Linked DNA regions of Homo sapiens: region 1 is linked to region 2. The links come from fine-mapping of genetic effects on gene expression. A gene starts in region 2. The other region holds a variant in brackets. All regions are shown on one strand. Distances are between the middles of the regions.

Region 1 (12,177 bases), 59 kb before region 2:
AGGCGGGCGCGCGGCGAGACCAGGGAGGAGGCGGGCGAGGGCGCGACCCGAGCTGGCGCTGGCGCTGGATTCCTGAGGCCTCACCGCGCATGTCCACGCGTCACAGCCCCGTGCTCCTTACCTGGGGCTGCACCCCTCACTTGGGGCCGGGCTCCTCACCTGGGGCTGGACCTGTCACCTGGGGGCCAGACCTCTCACCCGGGGGCCGGACCTCTCATCCGGGGGCCCGACCTCTCACCTGGGGCTGGACCTCTCACCTGGGGCCGGGCTCCTCACCTGGGGCCGGACCTCCCACCTGGGGGATGGGTTTTTCACCTGGGGGCTGGGGATCTGGGGTCCACTTAGGGTCTCTGGGGGCTGGGGATCTGCATTTCTACAGGCGCTTGAGGTGATGAACACTCGCTCATGTTCAGGAACCCCTGGTTTAAATTAGGGGAAATAAAACGTGCAGCGTCTGGATTTCAGAGAACTCCTGCCTGTGGAAGGAAGGAGTGCAGATAACACTGCACATTTAAAAAAAAAAAAAGTAACATCTGATTTGACCAGTTTCTTTTCTGTTTTTTTGAGACGGAGTCTCACTTTGTCGCCCAGGCTGGAGTGCAGTGGCGCGATCTCAGCTCACTGCAAGCTCCGCCTTCCAGGTTCCTGTGATTCTGCTGCCTCAGCCTCCTAAGTTGGGATTACAGGCACCCACCACCAGGTCCGGCTAATTTTTGTATTTTTAGTAGAGACGGGGTTTCACCATGTTGGCCAGGCTGGTCTCGAAGTCCTGACCTCAAGCGATCTGCCTGCCTCAGCCTCCCAAAGTGCTAGGGTTACAGGCGTGAGCCACCATGCTTAGCCTGATTTGATCAATTTCGGTAGAGGCCTTAAAATCTGGATTGATGGGGACAAGAGGGTCTTTGCAGGTCATTCCCTAATCTGAGATGCCATTGTTCTGTAAACCACCATTTTAAAGTGTCATGGCCTGGGCCCGTTTTAACCTGTGGGTGCTCTCGAAGCACCCGTCACTTAGATTAGCCACAGCTGCTGCCCAGCTGCCCAGCAGAGTGGGCTAGTGCAGGACAGTGTCCGTTCACCCTCGCCTGGTGGGGGGTTCGTCGTGGTTTTCGTGCTTGCTGGTGTTGACTTGGTCTTCCCGTGCTCCTGGCAGAGAATCCAGACTCACCCTTGGTCTTCTCATGCCCTCGAAAGTGAGCTGTGCTGGTCATCAGCAGAAGGCACACCTTGTTGGGTCCGAGGAGGTGCTGGGGGCCCGCCAGGAGTGTCAGAGTCAGCACGTAATGTTTTCACCCCACAGCTGAACTCTTCCTTGCTGGGGAACTCCCCTGGGTGGAGAGGTGTGGAGTGGGGTTGTGGGGGACTGCCAAGCAGCACTTGCTGTGTGCACCTCCCACATCTTGGCACGTAGATGCTCCCCGTTCCGTTTTATTTTTTATTTTTGTAGAAATGGGGTCTCATGATGTAGCCCAAGTTGGTCTTGAACTCCGGGCCTCAAGCAGTACCCCCCATGTCAGCTTCCTGAGTAGCTGGGATTATTTTTGTGGAGATGGGGTCTGGCTCTGTAGCCCAGGTTGGTCTTGAACTCCTGAGTAGCTGGAATTACAGGCGTGAGCCAACACATCCGGCTTGCTTCCTATTTCTTTTTTTTTGAGACGGAGTCTGGCTCTGTTGTCCAGGCTGGAGTACAGTGGTGCGATCTTGGCTTGCTGCAACCTCTGCCTCCCGAGTTCAAGCAATTCTCCTCCTCTGCCTTCCAAGTAGTTGGGATTACAGGCGCACACCACCATGCCCAGCTAATTTTTGTATTTTTAGTAGAGATGAGGTTTCACCATGCTGGCTAGGCTGGTCTTGAATTCCTGACCTTGTGATCCACCCACCTCAGCCTCCCAAAGTGCTGGGATTACAGGCATGAGCCACCACGCCCGGCCGTTGGAACATATTTTTATTTAATTTAATTAATTTATTTATTTATTTTTGAGATGGAGTCTTGCTCTGTCGCCCAGGCAGGAGTGCAGTGGCGCGATCTCGGCTCACTGCAAGCTCCACCTCCTGGGTTCACACCATTCTCCTGCCTCAGCCTCCCAAGTAGCTGGGACTACTCGCCACCACTCCAGCTAATTTTTTTGTATTTTTAGTAGAGACGGGGTTTTACCATGTTGGCCAAGCTGGTCTCGATCTCTTGACCTTGTGATCCACCCGCCTCAGCCTCCCAAAGTGCTGGGATTACAGGAATGAGCCACCGCTCCCGGCTGCTGGAATTTTTAATAAGCACGTGAGCTGGTGTGATGAGAACCCCATGTAGGAGTTTTTACCGATTTCTTCTTCGGCAGCCTTGTTGAGTGCCTACTGTGCGGCAGGCTTTGCTGATTCAGCAGTGAGTCCACCAAGCAAGCCCTGCCCGCAGGATGAGTCCAGCAGGGGAGGTGGCAGCGAGGCAGCCTTCAGGCCACAGCGGCTGGCCTCTGTCCTTGGTGCTGAGGCTGCGCTGGTGGGAAAAATCATCCAGCATCAAAAACCCCCCACCGTCAAAAAGCTTGTGTCTTAGCAAGTGGGAGACAGCTGAGTGGGCCCTCCCTCAGTTAGTGATTCCTAACCTAGTCCTTCGACCTTTCTCTTTGTTTGATACCAAGTTTATTTTTTTAAATTTTTTTATTATCTATTTATTTATTTCTGAGACGGAGTCACGCTCTGTGGCCCAGACTGGATTTCAGTGGTGTGATCTCGGCTCACTGCGGCCTCTGCCTCCTGGGCTCAAGCGATTCTCCTGCCTTAGCCTCCCGAGTAGCTGGGATTATAGGCGTGCACTACCATGCCCAGCTAATTTTTGTATTTTTAGTAGAGACAGGGTTTCACCATGTTGGCCAGGATGGTCTTGATCTGCTGACCTCGTGATCCACCCACCTCAGCCTCCCGAAGAGCTGGGATTATGGGAATGAGCCACCGCACCTGGCCCTCAGCCTCCCAAAGAGCTGGGATTACGGGAATGAGCGACCGCGCCCGGCCCCAGGTTTTTATATTTGGCAAAGGAGAGAACTGCATACCATTTCAGTCGTAAAATTATTAAAGCTTTCTTTTTTCTTTCTCTCCACCCCCTGCCCACCATATCAAATAGGGTTCTCCTTCCTTCTAATCTACAGATTTTCCTTTGGTTGCCATCTTTGTATACTTCTTAACTCTCCGTTTGATCAAAAGATAGTTTTGGCTGGGCATGGTGGCCCACGCCTGTAATCCCAATACTTCAGGAGGCCAAGGTAGGAAGATGGCTTGAAGCCAGGAATTCCATACCAGCCTGGGCTACAAAGCAAGACCCTGTCTTTACAAAAAATAAGAAAACTTAGCTGAGTGTGGTGACCCACACCTGTAGCTGCGGCTACTCAGGAGGCTCAGGCAAAAGGATCCCAGGAGTTTGAGGCTGCAGTGAGCCATGATCACTCCACTGCACTCCAGCTTGGGTGACAGAGTAAGACGCTGTCTCTTAAAAAAAATTTTTAAAGTAGTTTTAATAAATGGTAAGCCCTGGGGTTCTCTCTCCCTTTGCTTCTGGCCCTTCTGGTTTGGATTGAATAAAATCAAATCTGTTTTAAAAGAAGCCAGAAACGTGAAGAGTTTGCCCCCTCCCCTCCCTTGGTCTCTCACGTGTAGCAGCTGGACATGTTGCTGGCCTCTCAGGAAGCTCCGTGCCACGGGCCCCTGAGGTTGTCCTGTTAGTGTTTGGGGGACCCATTGCCAGTCTTCCCAGGCTCACATGCAGGCTCATGGCCAGTGTGGTGCCACCTTTGGGAAAGCCGGCCATGGCTTCTCCCAGCCCCCAGGGTGGGGTTCGGCGCAGGCGTCCACAGCCCCATCCCACCATTCCTGGGAGCGGGGGCTTTGCTGGCCACTCGAGCCCTGTGTCCCAGCAGCTGTACTACGTTCAGTTTCTTGCCCTCCCGGGGCCCCTGTCCACCACTCTCCAGCTTGGTGCCTCCCACCCAGCTAACTGGCACCCCTCAGCCTCCCATTCCGTCTTCTTCAGCCGGTTCCCTCGGGGCCAAGCCTGGGTTTTGCTGACTCTCCTGCCAGATTTAGACTGGGGGGCAGGGGCCATTTACCACCCTCCATTGCCCTCGTGGCCCAGGCCTGGTCAGACTCAGGGTTCTGCGACTGAGATCCTTCTGCCTAGAAAAACATTCACAGAGCTGGAAGTGTCAGATCACTGGTTACAGTATGAAAGATTCTCAAGTGTGATTTTTTCTCCAAACTTTCCATCTTGATGCGTTTTCAGATTTGTAGTAGTGCGACTAAGACAGTAGTTCAGAGAATTCTGCTAACCCTTTACCCGGATCTCCCAAACGTGAGCGCAAGCGTGACTTTCGAACCTCAGGAATCTGTTTCCACTTTTCCAGCATGCGTGGAGTGGCAGTGCTAACGGCTGGTGTCTCGCACTGTTGGCCTGTGAAGGTACGTGAAGCTGAAAGCCTGGAATGGCTGGAAAGGGGTCATCAGGCAGGCGGCCCCTGCTGCTGGGGCTGCTGGTGGCCGTAGCCACTGTCCACCTGGTCATCTGTCCCTACACCAAAGTGGAGGAGAGCTTCAACCTGCAGGCCACACATGACCTGCTCTACCACTGGCAAGACCTGGAGCAGGTGAGGGGCCCCTGCTGTCTTTGGGGAAAACCTCATGTTACCAGCTGGCAGGGCCCCGGTGCACTGACCTGCCCTTCTCCTCGCAGTACGACCATCTTGAGTTCCCCGGAGTCGTCCCCAGGACGTTCCTCGGGCCAGTGGTGATCGCAGTGTTCTCCAGCCCCGCGGTTTACGTGCTTTCGCTGTTAGAAATGTCCAAGTTTTACTCTCAGCTAATAGGTAAGGGGGTCTTCAACAAAGGAGGAGGGAGTGAGGGACTGTGGTGTCATCGGGTGACCTCAGCGAGGCCGCGGTCCCTCCTGCCCAGGAAC[G/A]CTGTCTGTTAGTCTTGCCTGCCCTCGATCACCGTGGCATGGCGGCTCAGAGCAGGTGCTCAGGTCAGGCCTAAGACGTCTGAGTCAGCCCCTCTGTGCCTCCACACTCTTGACTGTGAAATTAGGGGTGACGGCAGGTACAAGAGAAATGCCGACTGCCTGTGAGGCAGCTCTCGCCACCTGAGCCTGCTGCTCCCGCCTCACCTGGCAAGCCCCCATGGGGTCAACAGCCTTTATTCCTGCAGAAGCAGCACCATTTGCCTTGGGGAATGTTACAAACAGAAACCTCACATTCCCAGAGGCCACCACTGCAGGGCCTGTGTGCAAATCCTGGGTCTTTCTCTGTGCCCACATGAGGACTTTAAAAAAAAAAAATTAGAACGTTTTGTACATATTGTTCTAAAAACCGATTTTTTTTTCTTTTTTGAGACAGGGCCTTGCTGTGTCACCTAGGCTGAAGTGCAGTGGTGCAATCATAGCTCACTACAGCTTTGAACTCCTGGGCTCAAGTGATTGTCCCACCTCAGCCTCCCACAGTGCTGGGATTACAGGCATGAGCCACCACGCCCAGTCACACAACCTGAGTTTTTGAAGTCAGCAATCACCACTTTTTTATTTCAGTACGCTTTTATTGCTTTTAATACCCAGACATGCTTCCAGCGAGTCAGTCCAGCTTGTGTGGAGAGCTTTAAGAAGTAGCACGTTCCTGGGGAAGGAGCAGTTCTGCTTCTTGAAGGGGCAGATTGGGAACGGAAACCCACCATGGCACGGGGACAGCTGGACAAGCCGTGCATGTCCTGTAGAGGCATCAGGAAGCCCCAAATGGGGAGGAGTTGGGGGGCCACGAGCCAGGGAAAGGAAGTCCACAGGCAATTCCGGGGCTGAGTCCACATTCCCTTGGAAGCTTCTGCTTATTCCAGGGTTGGCAGCAAGAGGTTGGGAGGTTGGGCAGAGCTGGGTGGACTCCAGCTGGACAGAACCTTGGAGGGCTGCAGCTTCAGCTGGTGAACGGGAGCCCACCCTGTGTCCTTCCTGATCCCACTAAGGTGACCTGGAATTGCTAGTGCCCCCCCCAGCCCCTGCCACAGGCCAAAATCCTTCCTCTCTGGATGAAGAGCATGTCATCCTGGGGCCGAGGGTGATCCCGGGGCCGAGGGTGATCCTGGGGCCAGGCTGATCCCGGGGCCGAGGGTGATCCCGGGGCCGAGGGTGATCCCGGGGCCAGGCTGATCCCGCGGCCGAGGCTGATCCCGGGGCCGAGGGTGATCCCGTGGCCGAGGCTGATCCCGGGGCCGAGGGTGATCCCGCAGCCGAGGCTGATCGTGAGGCCGAGGCTACCCTTGTTGGGCACGGGGTTGAGATTGTTGGGCATTTGGGAAGATGGAAAACCAAGAGAAGAGACGCAGGGGATGGACCTGATGGGGAAAAGGGGAAGCGGGGCTTTGCTGGGGTCTGTGAATTGTTTAAAAGCCCGGGGGAAATTCCAGCACCAAAAATACAGCAGCTGGAGCCAGACCCACTTGTGAGTATCAGTGAAAAATGTCCTATTAAGACATTCAGACTGGGCATGGTGGCTCACGCCTGTAATCCCAGCACTTTGGGAGGCCGAGGCGGGGGGATCACCTGAGGTCAGGAGTTTGAGACCATCCTGGCCAACATGGGAAACCTTGTCTCTACTAAAAATACAAAAATTAGCCGGGCGTGTTGGCATGCGCCTATAATCCCAGCTACTCCGGAGGCTGAGGTAGGAGAATTGCTTGAACCCGGAAGGCAGAGGTTGCAGTGAGCCGAGATTATGCCACTGCACTCCAGCCTGAGCAACAGAGGGAAACTCTGTCCTTAAAAAGAAAAAAAAAAAGACATTTGCAGTCCGAATCCAGCAATCAGTGAAAAGAAAATGCCTGGTATGCACATGGGGTATTCTGGGAACAGCAGGTCCAGCCCTCAGACATCCGTGGCCCCCTTGGCAGTGCCTGGGTATCTCTGCCCATTGGCCCCCACAGCTGCCTGGACCCAGTTGCTTCTCACATGGCTTCGAAGTTCCTCTGGCCTTCTGGAAAGGTAGCAAGAGCCACCCAGAAGTTCATTTTTCTTCCTGTTTTCAGTCTCTTGCCAGCGGCTGACAGGCCGGTCCACGGTGAGGATGTGTGGTCGGCTGGGTACTGTCCTGGGCACACCTGCCCCCTCACCACCTCCTCATCAGACCACCAGCCCAGAGGTGGCTCCTGCTGTCAAATGGGGAGAGGGGTCCTGACCCCCTTCCTGCCTGGGAGCCTGTGTTCCTGCCACATCCCACCTCCTCATGGCTGCTGGTTAGAGCAAGGTCTGAGCCCGGCCTTTGCAAACATTTCCCCTGGAGATGCCACAGCCCGGTGGGGTCTCTGGTTTAGTGTAGGGCTCAGCTCGTGGCACCCCCAAGTTGTGTGTCCTCCCTCATGCTTCAGAGAGCAGCCCCCGCAAGGGTCCTCAGTTCCCGACAGGAGCGCAGGGGGCCTGGGTCCAGTCGTCTGTTTTCAACATGGAGACGATGCCCTCAAGGCTGCTTTGCCTGACGTAGCCGTCAGCTGGCATTGCAGCAGCATAGAAAACTCCATATAGAAAGATCTGTGTAGAAGGACCCACGTAGGGGGCCCCACTGGATACTCCTCCACTGCAGGCTCAGGTGCTGTCACTGTCTTTGTTTAGTTAGAGGAGTGCTTGGACTCGGCGTGATTTTTGGACTCTGGACGTTACAAAAGGAAGTGAGACGGCACTTCGGGGCCATGGTGGCCACCATGTTCTGCTGGGTGACGGCCATGCAGTTCCACCTGATGTTCTACTGCACGCGGACACTGCCCAATGTGCTGGCCCTGCCTGTAGGTACGTAGCTGCCGGCCGGGCCTGCACACCCATGGTGCCGGGCAGGGGCTCCCCTGAGTCGGGCTGTGCAGCTGATGGCAGTGCCTCCCCCGTAATGGCCATTCCCCACTGGGTTCCTCAGGATGGTCTGTGACCTGAAACCAGGCTCTTTGTTTTCCATGCTGGGTTGGGACACACTTCCTGGCCAACAGCATAGGTGCGGGGAGCGGCTCTGAGCAGTTTCTTTTCTGGGATATTTGTGTGGCTTTTATAATAGGAAAAGGAATCACCCTTCACTTCCCCGGGTGTTTTCTGGGCCGGGTGGGCCCTGTGTCTTGACGAGCACCCTCCCGCACTGTCTTGCAGTCCTGCTGGCCCTCGCGGCCTGGCTGCGGCACGAGTGGGCCCGCTTCATCTGGCTGTCAGCCTTCGCCATCATCGTGTTCAGGGTGGAGCTGTGCCTGTTCCTGGGCCTCCTGCTGCTGCTGGCCTTGGGCAACCGAAAGGTTTCTGTAGTCAGAGCCCTTCGCCACGCCGTCCCGGCAGGGATCCTCTGTTTAGGTAAGTCAGTCACTGTGGGATGCTTCTAACTGGATTTTGTTTTGCCTTGTTTTACAAAGGTCAAGAGAAATTTGGGAGGTTTTCATCCCCATGAAATAAAATGACCCTAAATTTAGCAGTGTTGAAAACATTTCAATCCTAAGCCCCCTGCCCGGGGATCTCCAGGGGGACCCACCGTGCGCCTTAGGAGCCCCTGTTCACTGGTCTGTCCCTTGTCCTTGGGCTGGGGGAGGCCACAAGAGTGGAGGGCGGCTTGTCCCTGCGCCAGGCGGTGGTTCTGGGCAGTGGTGTCCTCGACACAGTTGGTGTCTTTTTTCTTTTTTTGTTTTAGAGATAGTCTTGCTCTGTCACCCAGGATGGAGTGCAGTGGCATGATCATGGCCCACTGCAACCTTGAACTCCTAGGCTCCAGCAATCTTCCCACCCTGCCCAACCTCTTTTATATGAAAGCAGCTTGTAGTTTCTGTAGTGATGGGGGCTGCATTGTGGCGGGATGTTTACTGATGGCTGTGTTTGCGACTAAGAAACTCTATTTTATTTTGTCAGGACTGACGGTTGCTGTGGACTCTTATTTTTGGCGGCAGCTCACTTGGCCGGAAGGAAAGGTGCTTTGGTACAACACTGTCCTGAACAAAAGCTCCAACTGGGGGGTATCCTTCAGTGTCCGTGCAGGAGGGCGATGGGTGGGACCTGCAGCCACATCTCCTGGGCCTCCATGGGCAGTGGAAGCAGCTGCTTCTCCCTTCTCTGCAGCGTGGCTGCAGGGTCAGGATGGAGCCCCTCCCTCCCACTTGCTCCTGGGAAATGCTGGCCATGGGAGGTGAGGTCCTGGCTGCCCTCTCTCAGCCAGGAAACAGCCTGAGGGCTGGAAACAGCCCTGCCCCAGATTACCCCAGCCTCTCCTCTGCTCCTCGGACAATCTGCTTTTTTTTTTTTTTTTTTGAGACTGAGTCTCGCTCTGTCGCCCAGGCTGGAGTACAGTGGTATGATCTTGGCTCACTGCAACCTCCACCTCCCTGGTTCAAGCAATTCTCCTGCCTCAGCCTCATGAGTAGCTGGGACTATAGGCGCACGCCACCACACCTGGCTAATTTTTGTATTTTTAGTAGAGGTGGGGTTTTACCATGTTGGTCAGGCTGATCTTGAACTCTTGAACTCAGGTGATCCACCTGCCTTGGCCTCCCAAAGTGCTGGGATTACAGGTGTGAGCCACCACGCCCGGCCCGGACAATCTGCATTTAAAAAGTGCTTTCTTAGGAATTATGTCAAACATACACGCATAGATGGAACAGCATAACGAATCCCAACATGTGTGTCACCCGTGACCGTCTGTTTTTTGTTTTTTGGTTTTTTTTTTTTTTTTTTTTGAGACAGAGTCTCACTCTGTCGCCAGGTTGGAGTACAGTGGCATGATCTCGGCTCACTGCAACCTCCAACTCCCTGGTTCAAGTGATTCTCCTGCCTCAGCCTCCTGAGTAGCTGGGATTACAGGCACATGCCACCATGCCCAGCTAATTTTTGTATTTGTAGTAGAGACAGGGTTTCACCATGTTGGCCAGGATGGTCTCGATCTCTTTACCTCGTGATCTACCCACCTTGGCCTCCCGAAGTGCTGGGATTACAGACATGAGCCACTGCGCCCGGCCGACCATCTGTTTTTAACAGTGAAGAAAAGGGTACAGAGACCGAACGTCCTGTGGCCCTTGCTGCCTTGGTCCTGCCTGGAGGGGGCCCGACGCCCAAGTGGTATGTGTGCACCCGAGCTGTGGCCTGGGCTCTGTCTTTTAGGAGGGGCCTGAGGCCTGAGTGGTGTCTGTGCACACGAGCCGTGGTCCAGGCTGCATCTCTCAGCACAACTGTCTTCAAGCGTCTTCTCCACCTTGACCCTGCCACCTAGCCCACGGGCTCATGCGTGGACAGGTGCGTGGCCTCCTTAACCCAGCCCGCAGACCTCCCCGCTGCTGTGGTACTTCTACTCAGCCCTGCCCCGCGGCCTGGGCTGCAGCCTGCTCTTCATCCCCCTGGGCTTGGTAGACAGAAGGACGCACGCGCCGACGGTGCTGGCACTGGGCTTCATGGCACTCTACTCCCTCCTGCCACACAAGGAGCTACGCTTCATCATCTATGCCTTCCCCATGCTCAACATCACGGCTGCCAGAGGCTGCTCCTACCTGTGAGTGCTCTTTTTGTGACATGCATTTTTATAGTTTCATTGGAAACAGGTTCACTGATTTACTGTTGGGGGGATGTATGTGTGTGTTTAATTTTTGAAACAGGGTCTTGCTCTGTCGCCCAGCTGGAGTGGGGCTTACTGCACCCCTCAACTCCTAGGGGGTTAAGCCATCCTCCTGCCTCCTCCTCTGGAAGTGCTGGGATTGCAGGTGTGAGCCACCAGGGCTGTTTTTTAAGATAAACACAGGGTGTGTTGAACTAGGCGCTTATGTCAAAGGAGGGTGACCCCAGTCCTCTCTCCTCCCTGAGGGCTGCATGGGATGGGACCGGCCTGGCATTGTGCTGACAGAGGGCTTTGCTCAGGTGGTCTCTGTCTTGGGTTAATTTGGTGACTGGTCCACATATGGTGATGCACCAGCGGTCCCAGTCTCTGTCATGGGAGAGTGACACTCACATAGGTAGCAGCGGCAGAGGGCAGGGGCAGCCAGGCCTGGGAGGCTCTGAGGGCGACAGGTCAGGTAGAGGAAGGGCGTTCGTGGCCATCCTGACAGGGCCTCGGGCTTGAGGGCGTTTGTCAAGGCGGGTCATCTGGCTGGAAGAGGGGGATGGTGAGGGAGGTGCCTATGGCTGGGTGCAGAGGGCCCAGCGTGGCCCAGGCTCAAGGTCCTGTGGAGGGCAGGGGGCTTCCTGCGGGGAGGGACTGCAGGCAGCAGGTGATGGAGGTGGAGCTGGGGGCCTGGCAGGGCCTGGGGAGGGCACTGCCTGGGCTGAGGGTGGGGTGGTCTGAGCGCGGCTGCCACTCAGTGTTGCAAGCCTCAGGGAGCCAGGAGAGTCCATCACTGCCGGGCCCTGTGGGTGCTGGGGAAGGACCCGGGGCTCAGGCCCAGGAGAGTCCATCACTGCTGGCCCTGTGGGTGCTGCGGAAGAACCCAGGGCTGAGGCTGGCCAGCTCTGTGCCCGTTCAGAGTTTGCTGCCTTGATGGGAACAGGAGGCCAACTCAGGCCACGCTGGGCATTGAGGGGCGGCAGGGCTACAGGCCAGGAGGGCCGCGGCCTGGGGCATTGAGAGGTGCCCACTCTGGCTGGAGAGGAAGCCCCACAATGCGGTCCCTGATCTCAGGCAGCGGTCAGGTGCTTTCCGGTGCCACTTGTTACAGGGGAGGGGATGGTGCCCCCCAGCTCCGACTGCCCCGCACTGCCCTCGGGCCTGGGAGCTCCTCTGGCTGCCGTGACTGTTCCTCGCTGGGGGTTCCTCCGGCTGCCGTGGCCGTGCCTGGGTTGGGGGCTCCTCTGGCTGCTGTAGCCGCGCCTCAGTGGGGGCTCCTGGGAGCTCTGCCTCTGCTTTTCTGTGCCTTTGGCTCCCTCTCGTCTCAGGGGTCGGCTCAGGGCTGGAGGAGGAGCAGACCCCAGCCAGAGTCATGGAAAAGAGGGTAGGAAAGACGGGGAGAGCGGCGCGGATGGATTGTATTCGGTGACAGGCTTTTCCAGCAGGGAAGAAGATCCAGTGGGAACTGGACCCAGCTCTGTGTCTTTGAGGCCTGGTGTGCTGGGCGTGAGGGGCTGCTCCATGCAAGGGCCCCTGCTGTGCCAGTCGGCCTTATCCGGAGGAGGACAAACTTGGGGAGTCCAAATGAGGGGGTGCAGGGTAGAGCAAGGCCCCCTCCGAA
Region 2 (12,295 bases):
ATTTAAAGGGCCAGTGAGCAAAGTCGCATCCGTCCTCATGGGACAGCCTCCGCCCACAGTGCAGCACACAGCATCACCTGCGCCCCAAACGTGCCCCTGTATCAAATCAGGCCTCCCACCGCCAGATCACAGGGGGTGCTCCGGGGGCACCGGAACGCAAAGAGACCTCACAGCCACTGTGACACGTGGCCCTGTACTCGATTCTGGTTGGGAAAAACAGCTAGTAAAGACGTTGGGGGACAACTTCAGACCGTGGACTGGCTACTGGATGACGCCAAGGGACACAGTCACGTTTTGTAGACGCCATCGATGACGCGACTGTCATTAGACAGTAGAATGTCCCTTTCCCTTTCTTAGGAGAAAGAACACTTAGAGAAGTGTCCAGATATCTGCAGTTTCCTTCAAGACAGTTCAGCACGTGCCAGGTGGCAGCTGGTGGCAGTCACGGTAGCTCCAGCTGGGGGCAAGGGACGTAGGAGTGCCAACTCTGTAAGTTAGAAACTTTATAATAACCTTCAAACAACAGAAATATATTCGTGTTCAACTCAGAGCACACGCACTCTCAACAAGCTGTCGAGTATACCCAGGGAGGCAAAGAGCTATGCATCAAGACTCCGGGCCTGGTTCAGACGGGGACATGGCAGTTTCTCCTCCTGAGGACATAAACTACCATCGGGGCTACACCTGAGTAGCCTTCACCTATTCTGGGGGTGCACAGCAGCATCAACTGCCACAAATTCCAGCAGGAGCCATGGCTCACAACAGCTGCCCACACAGAAGCCAACATCCAGGTCTGGGCTAAACTGAGAAGGGGGCCGGGCACGGTGGCTCACGCCTGTAATCCCAGCCCTTTGGGAGGCAAAGGCGGGTGGATCACCTAAGGTCAGGAGTTTGAGACCAGCCTGGCCAACATGGTGACAGCCCATCTCTACTAAAAATACAAAAACTGGCTGGGCGCGGTGGCTCACGCCTGTAGTCCTGTCCTGGCACTTTGGGAGGCCAAGGTGGACGGATCACGAGATCAGGAGATCGAGACCACCCTGGCCAACATGGTGAAACCCCGTCTCTACTAAAAATGCAAAAAAAAATTAACCGGGCACGGTGGCGCACGCCTATTGTAATCCCAGCTACTCAGGAGACTGAGGAAGGAGAATCGCTTTAACCTGGGAGGTAGAGGTTGCAGGGAGCTGAGATTGTGCCATTGCACTCCAGCCTGGGTGACAGAGCAAGATTCCATCTCAAAAAACAAACAAAAATTAGCTGAGTGCGGTGGCGGGTGCCTGTAATTCCAGCTACTCAGGGAGCTAAGGCAGCAGAATCACTTGAATCCAGGAGACAGAGGTTGCAGTGAGCCGAGATTGTAACACTGCACTCCAGCCTGAGTGACAGAGTGAGAATAAACAAACAAACAAACAAACTGAGAAGGGGAACCCAAAGCTAAAGGTCAAAGACAGTGGCAAGGGGTCTGACTCCAGAAACCCGGAGTCAGAGCTGCTCTGTCAGACGTGCTCAGGAACCCAGGTAAGGGCGTCTTGGAAACGGCACCTTCCAGAGCAAGCCAGCGACCACGCTAAGGTCAGCTGGTCCGTGTTCCATCCCTGAAATGTTCTGGGTCACACGACAGGGTCATGTGGATTGTTCTGCTAGGTGGTTTTGTGGGTCCCCTGTATTTAACACCAGCACCCTCGCCGTGTACCCATACCTTGGGGGTCCGGGCAGTCCCACTAGTGACAGGCCTGACATCGCAGCTATGGCTGAACGCTGCTGGGGAGTCTCTCACTTACAGGATGTGGAGCATGGCTTCTATGACGGAGCAACCAGAGCTCTCCGAAATGCACATGCTCCCGACCCTGCTCCCTGCAGCAAACAGGTGGAGCAGAGACCACCAGGTGGGCCTCGATGAGGAGCAGCTTTGGAGGAAGTCAGCCCCTCAGGGTTTGTCTGTGGAGGTGGCAAGGCAGGAAGGGCGGGGGGCCAGGTCCTCCCGACCCTAATCAGGTAGGGGGCTGCAGCAGTCACAACCCCATCCCCAGGGCCAGGCCAGCATCAGCTGTTTCTATTGCACACAGAGTTTGCTGGGAAAGACATGGGCCATGGCTGCTGAAAAGCCTTCACCTAGAATGAGGTGGGAAGCTGGCTGGCATTGCAGCGCGGCCTTCACCTAGAACGAGGGGTGGGAAGCCGGCCGGGATTCCAGCGCGGCCTTCACCTAGAACGAGGGGTGGGAAGCCGGCCGGGATTCCAGCGCGGCCTTCACCTAGAACGAGAGGTGGGAAGCCGGCCGGGATTCCAGCGCGGCCTTCACCTAGAACGAGGGATGGGAAGCCGGCCGGGATTCCAGCGCGGCCTTCACCTAGAACGAGGGATGGGAAGCCGGCCGGGATTCCAGTGTGGGTCATTTAGGCTGCATGTCCCCTGAATTCCGAAACAACCCGGGGGAGCTGGGAGGCGGCTTCAGCAGCAGGCGCTTGGGCCGGGCAGGAGGTACGCACTGGGATGCCGTGAGGCTGCCTCTGCACCTCATGGACAATGCTCTCCTGGGGCTTCCGCCATCGCCCCCAGACCCTTCAGGGCAACCTCCTCTCCCTATGAGGTCTCCGGAGCATGCTTTCCTGAGAAACTGGGATTACCCCTGCTCTCACCTGCCGGTGTTTCTCCTTGAAGCACTTACTGAGCCTTTTTCTCTGGTTTACGCTGCTCCTCACCACCACCATGTTCCCTACGGCCAGGGCCTTCTTTGAAAACCACCATGGCCCCAGCAGGCAGAGAGGCAAGCACCTCTGTCTCTCCTGCTCCCCTCCGCCTCAGAAATGGCAAAGAGCTTATTTTATTCCTAACAATGCCTCCCAGAATTTGAACTACAAAAGCACATATCCAGTGATGACCAAGGAAGGGATCTGAGGTACTGCAGAATGTAGAAAAACCTAGGTGCTAAAAAGTGGGGAGCAGAAGGGCCTGGAAGGCTGGGATGCAGAGAGGCCCGAATCCTTGAAAGGGCTGAAGCCAGAGAGCTGCTGGAATCCACAGACACTAAAAGAGAAAGCCAAAACCAAACCGCTAAGGGGTGTCACGGGCTAAAGGCACAGTGACTTTCTTACACAGCCAAATGTAAATAAGAGCAATTCCTATAGGTACATTCTCAGGTCCTGAGATTTAAACAGTGAAGGAAACAACGTTGGTAAGGAAGGGCCAGCTTGGCCTCTACCCCAGGGCTGGGCAAAGCCACGCCCAGCTGTTTCACCTGCTCCCTCCTCTCAAAAGACAACCACCACACCAAAGAGAATGAGACCAGAAGCTAAAGCCAGGCAAAGAAAAAAACGCAAAACAAAGTGAAGGACGGCACTGACCACGGTCACTTCCTGCTCCTCATGCCGCCAGGAGTCCACTCCCCAGGGCTCCTCACCAAGGATCTGAGACACACACACACACACACCTTTCGCTAAAGAAGCTGCTTCTCAGCTCCTCTGCACACACACAGAAGTCAGTCCGCTCCCCTAGTAATTTTTTTAGTCTTTCTGCAAGGTGTTATGGACATACTTTGCACAGCTGAGTTACTCACTGTGTGTGTGGAGGGGGTTGGGGAGGAGGTAACCTTAAAGAGCAGAGGTTTTACATCCAACAACATCAACCACCTTATTCAGGAATTACCTGGACAAGAGTGTGTGTTGGGGGAGACCCTGTAACCACCTGTCAAGTGGACTAAAAGTCTTAGGTTTCTTTCCATATAGATTAACTGTGTCCTCACCTCAAAGACCGGGCCTCTGAAGCTTTTTCAAGATTCACAGAATCTCTCTTAACTTGTGCTAGATCTTTTCTTGAAAAAAAGCCAATCATGACAAGCAGATATAATCCGTTTAAGGACTACGGGAAGTGTGCAGCCTTGTACGGACGTCCCATTGGAAACCCTCGGAGTATGGAATCAAACTCCTGTAAACTTTCCTCTTGCAAAGTAACTTTGTTTAGTAATTGCAATTAATTCATAATCAAAATGTGGCTTATTCATAGCACTTAAAAAAAAATCCCAACCAAATCCTTCCTAGCCTCAATTTTGTCACTATGAATGACATACACAGAAAAAATAAAAAACATTTCTGTGTAAAAAGTCGCAGGATGCCCTTGCTTTACCAAACTGGCCTCACTATGAGGTCTGAATGGATTTCTAAAAACGTAATCTGATCAGAGTTAACTTCAAAATAAATAACTTCCCTTTCGACCAACACGAGAACACCAACAGAAGCTTCTGACGGCTCAGCTTGGCCGGGACGTGTTTCCACAGAGGTGCCCGGGTCTACCAGGGCCACCCGGAATAGAAAGGCGCAGAAGGGAGCCCGAGGGGCTGCGATTCTCTTAGCAACGAAGGCGGTGTGGGCCACACAACGGGACAAAAGAAGAAACAAAACTGACTGCGAGCTCATTTGGGTGTAGGAAAACCACTGCAGTCGAAAAACATTTGAAATTATGGTTCGCAAGGCAAGTTACATTTTTATTCATTAAATGTGAACGGTCATCCCCAGAACCACGTACAATAACCTGCCTCGGGGCGCGTCGCAAGGACCCGTCTGGGCTGAGACATGAAGCAGGGCCCAGGTGGCCCTTCCTGGAGGTGGGACGGGAATGACACGTCCAGAGAAGTCCCAGGGACGGGGCTCGCGGGGTTAACTCGACGTGGCCGGGACAGCGCGCTCCCGGCGGACCCGGGCGGCGCCCCGAGCCCGAGCCCCGTCCCGTCCGCCCGGAAGCAACGGCGCGGGCACGTGGGCCAGGCCGGGCGCCGACCCCCGGCACTCGGCCGCTCAGTCGGCGCCGCCCCCGCGCCAGCTGTCAGGGCCGGGGTCCGCGCGGGGGCGGGTCCGGGGCGGCGCCGGGCGGGGACCCCGAGGCCACGGAACCGCGCCCCCGCCCGCCTGGCCCCGGCCCTGGCCCCGGCGCGGCGCAGACAATGGCGCGGCCCGGCCCGGCCCCGGCGCGGTCCGCGGGGGACGGGGCTCGCGGCAGGCGGCGGGGCGGCGGCGCCCGCGCACTCACCTCGGCCCGGCCTCTGGGGCGGCTCCCGGCCGGCTGCGGACGACGGCGGCGCGGGCGGACGCTCCATTCATTACCGCGGCTTTGTCTGCCCCCGCGCCCCTCCCGCGGCCCCGCCGCCCGCCGCCCGCGACGCCGCCGGACGCTGCGCCCCTCCCAGGGCCCCGCGCGGCGCGGGGCGGGGCTGGCCGGGGGCGGGGCCGATCGGGGGCGGGGCCTACTCTCGCAGGCGCAGTGTCCGCGTACCCGCCCCGCCTCGTCCCTGGCCGGGCGGGAGGACGGAGCGCCGGAGGCCCGGCCGCTGGGGCGGGGTCGGGCGGAAGACGCAGGCGCAATGCGCGCTTCGGCTCCGCCCCCGGGTCCAGGAGGGCAAACTACGCAGGCGCAGTGGGCGCTCCGGCGCTGGCGGGCGACGGGAAGGGCTTAGGCGCTCTGGCTGGGCGGGGCGCGGGCGCCTTGGTTTCGTCCCGTGGCTTGGCAGTTGGCAGCGGCTCGGCGCGCACCCAACGGCCCACCGCGGGTTTCCGGGACGGCTAGCAGCGCGGTTCCCGGTCCCGCCCCGAACCCCCTTACCTGGCGCAGAGGCCGCTCAGTGCGGTGCGGTCAGGCCTCGTGGGCTGGGACCTAAGCCGTTGACCCTAAGGCGATCGGGGCTCCCCGCGCGGCCCCCCCGGGGGACGGGATTAACGCCTAAGCCCCAAGCCGGGTCGGCGGGAGGAGGGCGGCCCTCTGGGCGAGCGCGGGGCCGGGGCTGGCGGTGCGGAGCGCACGGGACTCGCCCGCTTCTCAGGGTCTGAAGGAAATGTGCACTTTTAATGTGTTATTTCCTAACACAAATGTTTGAGCAGACCAAATAAACTCTGCATGCTGAATGTGGCCCCGAGGTCCCCCGTTGGTGACACGGCTTTCGGCATTTTCTCGGCCTGAGTGTGAGAGTGAGAGGAGCCCGCGTGGCGGTCACCGGCTGGAGCGGGAGCGTGGAGTTATCACGGCCGCCTCTGCCCGGAGCCCGCCCCTGCCCCGCGGCTGTGCCCCTTCACCCGCACGCCGACTGTTCCAAAGTCCACGTCCAGCCTGCAGCCGGGTTTTCTATGGTGCCTGAGCTAAGAATGCTTTTCTCGTTTTTAAGAGGTTGGGGGAGAATTAAAACAGTATTTTAGCATATATGAAAAGTATATGACATTCAAATATCGGCCGGGCACGGTGGCTCACGCCTGTAATCCCTGCACTTTGGGAGGCCGAGGCGGGTGGATCACCTGAGATCAGGAGTTCGAGACCAGCCTGGCCAACATGGAGAAACCCCGTCTCTACTGAAAAAAAATAAAAAATTAGCCAGACGTGGTGGTGGGCTCCTGTAATCCCAGATACTCGGGAGACTGAGGCAGAAGAATCGCTTGAACCCGGGAGGCAGAGGTTGCAGTGAGCCGAGATCGCGCCACTGCACTCCAGTCTGGGTGACAGAGCAAGACTCCGTCTCCAAAAAAAAATTAAATTAAAATGTCGGTTTCCTAAGGAGTTCAACTGGAACACCACCATGCTTGTTCATGTAGTTAAAAGGTAAACTGCTTTACCTTCCACCATAGCTATGGAGTTGAGACCAGGCACTGACACCCAAAAAGGGCTCCCTGTTTCTTTCTTTTTCTTTTTTTTTTCTTTCTGAGACAGAGTCTCGCTCTGTCCCCAGGCTGGAGTGCGGTAGCGTGATCTCGGCTCACTGCAACCTCCGCCTCCCGGGTTCAAGCGATTCTCCTGCCTCAGCCTCCAGAGTAGCTGAGACTACAGGCGCTCGCCACCACGCCCAGCTAATTTATGTATTTTTAGTAGAGATGGGGTTTCACCATGTTGACCAGGATGGTCTCGATCTCCTGATCTTGTGATCCGCCCGCCTTGGCCTCCCAAAGTGCTGGGATTACAGGCATGAGCCACCGTGCCCGGCCTGGGGATCCCTGTTTCATTCAGAGTGGAGGCCAGTGTTCTCAGGCCTGCTCTGCCCCTGCCATCCCCTCATCAGATCTGCAGCAGCCCCCAGCCTCCTTGATGCTTGCTTTGGGGTCTTCGCACTGACTTCTTGTCTGCCTGGACTGCTCTTCCCCTCTGCCAGTGTCAAGCTCCCAGACGGCTGCCCATATGTCAGCATAGTGGGAGGCTCTCCGGGGCCATGCTCTAGGAAGTAACACTGCGCTCTCCTCATCCCCTCTCCGGGCTCTGACACATCTGACACACTGTATATGCCTGTGTCATGACTGCCCCCCAACAGCCTCCTGCTAGAATCAGTGGGAGGGGGGACTTCTTTGTTGTATGTGCTGAGGGAGCATGCCCAGTGCCGAGAGCAAGGCCCCCTACGCTTTGTGGAGTAGGTTAATGGGGCCCCACAATTGCCTGGCACTCATGTGCAGAAATAGAAGATTCCTGGGGCCAAAGAGCAACAGCTCTTCCCAAAGGGGCCTGCCGGTGAGTGAGTGAGTGCAGGTTGACAGGTCCCTCCTAGTGCCTTCCAAATTGTGCAGGGCAGCCAGGTGCGGCCTATTCTCTGGCCCCTCACAGGAAGATACTGTTTTGTATGTCGGGTGGCCCTTGGACTAAGTGCCCAAATGGGGCACCCTGGAGCATGGAAGGGCACACTAGACATCATGGGGCCAGGACCCAGCATCAACTGGGACTGTTTCGGCAAGCCAGTACCCCATGCCTCCACCAGCTGCAGTCCATTCATTTAATCTTTGATGGGCACTTTCTGTGTGCCCAAGATACAATATCTTATTTTTTCTTTTTCTTTTTTTTTTTTCAGTCTGCAAGTGCTTGGTACATACACAGATGGTATTTATTTGCTGTTTGTCTTAAATTGCATTCTTATGCATCATAGAGACTGCGATAAGGAGAAGAAAAAATATTTTCTACAGGACCATCCAAACATGTAAGTGGCTTTTCATGGGACAGTTTCCCATCACGGGAAAGACATAAGTCGATTCTTAGTCATCCAGAGTGTCAGTATCTTATTTTTTCATTCATCTGAACCAAAGTGTGACATCCCAGGGCCAGGTGTTTTATCTGAGTTCCATGCACAGACTGTGAGCCCCACCTGTACAGGGCAGTGCGAGTCAGGGATGCTCCGCACTGAGGCAGAAGAGCAGCTGGTGCCCTGGTCCTCTGTCCACTGAGGCTGCAGGTGGACCCACAGCATCTTCCGAAGGCAGGGAGCCCTCCGTGCTTGGAGCACTGTGGCCCTGGAGGGTTCGCCCTCATGTGATGTGACTTTGGTTGAGTTTCTTAGCTGTGAATTAAGATTATGAGCCCAGCTTGGGGGTAGGGCATGGAGCTGATGGTGTCACATGTGGAAGCAGCTGGGTGACCCCGAGCCCGGTGACCACTGGTCACTGGGGAGGCACAGACCTCGCTGTGGCAGGGTCCTGAGGGCCAGGGCCTCAAAGGAGGGTGGCTGTGTCCCTGGGCCCCGCGGGAGTAAGGGTGTACACCTGCCAGTCCCCTGCCTACAGTGGTGGTGGGGTGGAGCCCCATGGTCCCTTCCATCTGGAATCTCAGACCTGGCCCCCCTCTGCCACCCTGTGCCTCCCGTCTGCCTTTCAGGGTAGCAAGAATGCTGTGCGCCCCACTGGGGAGGGAGGTGGGGAGGACTCCAGAGCGTCCAGGTGGGGGCTGCTGCAGAGGAGATGGTTTCTCTCGGGTGCAGAGGAGGGTTGGGCCCTGGGCACCTACTGGTCACTCTTCGCCACGACGGGGACCTCACCACGTTGTCCCTCATCCACGTCACCCGCCCAACCCACGCGGAGGGTCCTGAGGGCTTCACCACGCAGCCCTGAAGGGGCAGAGCTGGGGTCACACAGGTATCGGAAGCCCACGCTGTGGCCCCAGGAGAAGGTTCTGGATGTGGCTCCTATGAGTGAAGGGTGGACTCACAGCGCTGCCGGAATAAAGGGAAACCACAGGCAGGAGGGAAGCGCGTCCAGGATCCGCGGCCACCGGCCTCTCAGACTGTCTTCTGGGGCCAGGTCGCGAGGAGATGGAAAGCGGGGGCATCACAGGCTCGTCTGAACCCGCGCGTTCATTCGGCCACACCGACCCCAAACCCCTGCATGCGGGCAGGACCCCTGGTTCTCCTGCGCCCACCCCAGCCCTGCTGGCCGCCGGGGCATTTGAGGGATGGTTGCGGGGGGTCGGAGGGTGGAAGGGGCGTCGGGCAGCCTCGGTGGGGAGGGGAAGAGGCTTCCCGTGCACTATGGACTCCCGCATTCGGGAAGGGAGGCGCTCGGGGTTGGGGAGGGAGGAAAAGGCGGCTGTGTTCGGGGAGGGGGCAGCGAGACCCCGCCCGGGCTACGGGTTGCAGGATGGAGCGGACGGGAGGAAGGAGCCCTGACGCCGCGGACCCCACGCCTGCCGGCCGTCCCCTCCCTCCCTGCCTTCCTTCCTTCCTCCCTCTCCGCAGAGGCAGCGCGGGGACCCGGCCGGGGTGGGGCTAGGGCGGTGCGCCCCGGAGCCTCCAACCTGGACCCCACCCCGGAGGCGCCGCGACCGCGCTCCCGCCGCCTCCAGGAAGGTGCCCGGATCGCGCCGGCGACCGGAGGACTCTGCGCCCCGCCGCCTCCCACCCTGTCCCGCCCCGCGCCTGTCGGCGACCCCGCGGGGCCGGTCCCCGTCTCCACCTGCAGTCCGGGGCGCGGCGCCCTTGAGGGAAGCGGGGCTCTGGGATCCCCCGGCCTGGGCGTGGGACACCCCACGGTCCGCACGAACCTTGGTGGCCCGGGCCCCTGCTCCCCCAGAACAGCGCCCAGGTCTCGGAGAAACCCCCCGAAGCCGTGGGCCCAGACGCTCCCGGGGGACCTCGGTGGGACGGGCAGGGCGGGCGCCGCGGGCGAGGGGACGCGCACTGTCCCCGGGCGAACCAGAAACACCCCACACCGGGCACCTCCCCAGGAATCGCCCACCCACCCCCATTGTTCTCCACCAGGTTTCACCTTACCACCCTCCCCCCAGGCATCTCCCCCGTTGCATCGCCCCCACGCGGGCATCGCTCCCACCCGGGCATCTCGGCTCTGTCCTGCCCTGGGGTGGCCGCAGCCCGCGGGGAGGAAGCGCGGCGAGGCGCCCACACCGGGAAAGTGTCTCCGTGACTCTGCGAGGTTACACTCCGGGTGCGTCGCTGCGGGCTCGTGGGCTCGTGGGCTGCAGCCCCCCGCTCCTGTCGGGTGGACGAGCCCCGGGCCCGCGTGGAGCTGCTCGGTCAAGGCCGGCCCGGGAGGGGCGCGGCGCAGGGCGGGCAGGGGCGGGGTCCTAGGTCAACGTCCAGCCCCAGACCCAGCCCCGCCGCCGGATCCACCGTGCCTCTGTTTCCCCATTCCTGAGAAATCGGAACGCCGGCGGCACCCCCTTCTCCGGGCCGGAGCCTGCGCCCTCCGGATTGCGCGCCTCTGTCCAGGCGGCGGCCGGGGGTGGGAGCGCGCAGCGGGCCAACTTCCCTAAAGGGAACTGTCGGGAGGGCGCCCAGAAGGGAAAGACCAGGAAGCGCTGGGTGCTGAGCTGGAGTCTGGCCCCTTCCTGGGGGACCGGGGAGGGGGCTGAAGGTGGGGAGAAGACCGCCGGGGCTGCTAGGGGGGCACTGAGGGAGCGTCCAGGGGGAGAACTCTGGGTGGGCGACGCCGCAGGGGAGCTGCCTGGCAGGGGCGAGGGCCTCGGGGAAGTGGAGCTTCTGGCCGAGAGCTGCATCTGTGGCCGGGGAGGGAAAGGGTCACAAGGGCAGTGCGCGCCGGGAGGGAAGCTCAGGCCGGGGGGAAGGGACTGCGCGGCGGGGACAGGTGCGTCGGGTGCTGGACAGTGAGCAGGAGCCCGCCGGTGCTCAGGTCACGAAGGTGCTGGAGCCGGGGGAGCTGGAACGCAAGGGGGTTAAGGGAACGCGCTGGGAAGGGTGGGGGCGGCAGCTGCTCCAGGCTGCGGTGGCCTTGGTTCTGTCTGAGGGTCCATGGGTGGAAAGGCATTTGGAGCTTGTGTTCATAGCTGGGACTGCCAGATTTGGTGGATAAAAATACAAAATTGCGTGGGACCGGACGGGCGCGGTGGCTCACGCCTGTAATCCCAGCAGTTTGGGAGGCCGAGGTGGGCGGATTACCTGAGGTTGGGAGTTCCAGACCAGCCTAACCAACATGGTGAAACCCCGTCTCTACGAAAAATACAAAATTAGCGGAGCATGGTGGCGTGCTCCTGTAATCCCAGCTACCAGGGAGGCTGAGGCAGGAGAATCGCTCGAACCCGGGAGGCGAAGGTTGCAGTGAGTCAAGATTGGGCCATCCAGGCTGGGCGACAAAAGCGAATCTCTGTCTAAAAAAAAAAAAAAGTGCACAGCACGTACATATACTAAAAAATTATTATCTGGAATTAAAATGTAACTGATTGTACCGTATTTTATCTGCAACCCTAATCATAACAGGCATGTTGTTCTCTGTATATAGTCCAGTCAACAGCAAAAGTATGTAAAAAGGTGAAAAAACTACTTATGACACATCCCTAAAGGAATAACTTTAAGAACAATTAGGTGTATATTGCCCAGGGTTTTTGTTTTTTGTTTGTTACCTTGAGTCGGGGTCTTGCTCTGTTGTCCATGCTGGAATGCGGTGGTGTGATCACAGCTCAGTGCAGCCTCAACTTCCCAGACTCAAGCAGTCCTCCCACCTCAGCCTCCTGAGTAGCTGGGAGTACAGGCACCTGGCTAATTTTTGTATTTTTAGTAGAGACGGGGTTTCATCACGTTGCCCAGGCTGGTCTTGAACTCCTGGGCTCAAACAACCTGCCTGCCTCGGGCTCTCAAAGTCCTGGGATTACAGGCATGAGTCACTGCACCTGGCATTGCCTAGTTTTTTGTTTGTTTGTTTTTTGAGACGGAGTCTTGTTCTGTCACCCAGGCTGGAGTGCGGTGGCACAATCTCGACTCAATGCAACCTCCACCTCCCGGGTTCAAGCGATTCTCCAGCCTCAGCCTCCCGAGTAGCTGGGACTACAGGCGCATGCCACCATGCCTGGCTAATTTTTTGTGTTTTCAGTAGAGATGGGGTTTCACCGTGTTAGCCAGGCTGGTCTCGATCTCCTGACCCCATGATCCACCTGCCTCAGCCTCCCAAAGTGCTGGGATTAGAGGCGTGAGCCACAGCGCCCAGCTGGCATTGCCTAGGTTTTATATATGACCATATATTTAAAAAAGAAGGCCAACATGGTGGCTCACACCTGTACTTCCAACACTGGGAGACCGAGATGGGAAGATCACTTGAACCCA

Evidence for each region.
Region 1: its variant is fine-mapped to the expression of ZBED4 in whole blood (TOPMed, PIP 0.98).

What each region holds. Positions count from the first base shown.
Region 1 is chr22:49,906,055-49,918,231 of GRCh38, reverse strand. ALG12 (ALG12 alpha-1,6-mannosyltransferase) reads left to right here. Exons shown (of 10, transcript NM_024105.4): 2 at 4,389-4,628; 3 at 4,715-4,847; 4 at 7,625-7,798; 5 at 8,144-8,338; 6 at 8,885-8,988; 7 at 10,288-10,511. The coding sequence starts at 4,467. Among named protein-coding and RNA genes, the nearest start is that of ALG12, 6.3 kb to the left of the region's middle. RefSeq lists a silencer at 5-204. The variant G/A (reference allele first, on the strand shown) is at 4,940.
Region 2 is chr22:49,846,720-49,859,014 of GRCh38, reverse strand. ZBED4 (zinc finger BED-type containing 4) reads right to left here and starts at 5,171. Exons shown (of 2, transcript NM_014838.3): 1 at 5,026-5,171. It overlaps LOC124905156 (basic proline-rich protein-like), which reads left to right and starts at 9,363. Exons shown (of 3, transcript XM_047441701.1): 1 at 9,363-9,417; 2 at 9,461-10,595. The coding sequence starts at 9,363. The coding sequence ends at 10,494. It overlaps LOC105373091 (sterile alpha motif domain-containing protein 1-like), which reads right to left and starts at 9,425. Exons shown (of 2, transcript XM_011530661.3): 1 at 8,935-9,425; 2 at 8,345-8,833. The coding sequence starts at 9,267. The coding sequence ends at 8,345. It overlaps LOC105377205 (a long non-coding RNA gene), which reads left to right and starts at 5,503. Exons shown (of 5, transcript NR_188597.1): 1 at 5,503-6,579; 2 at 7,808-7,933. It also overlaps LOC124905147. RefSeq lists enhancers at 1-75, 1,678-2,338 and silencers at 4,524-4,813, 4,984-5,713, 5,734-5,823.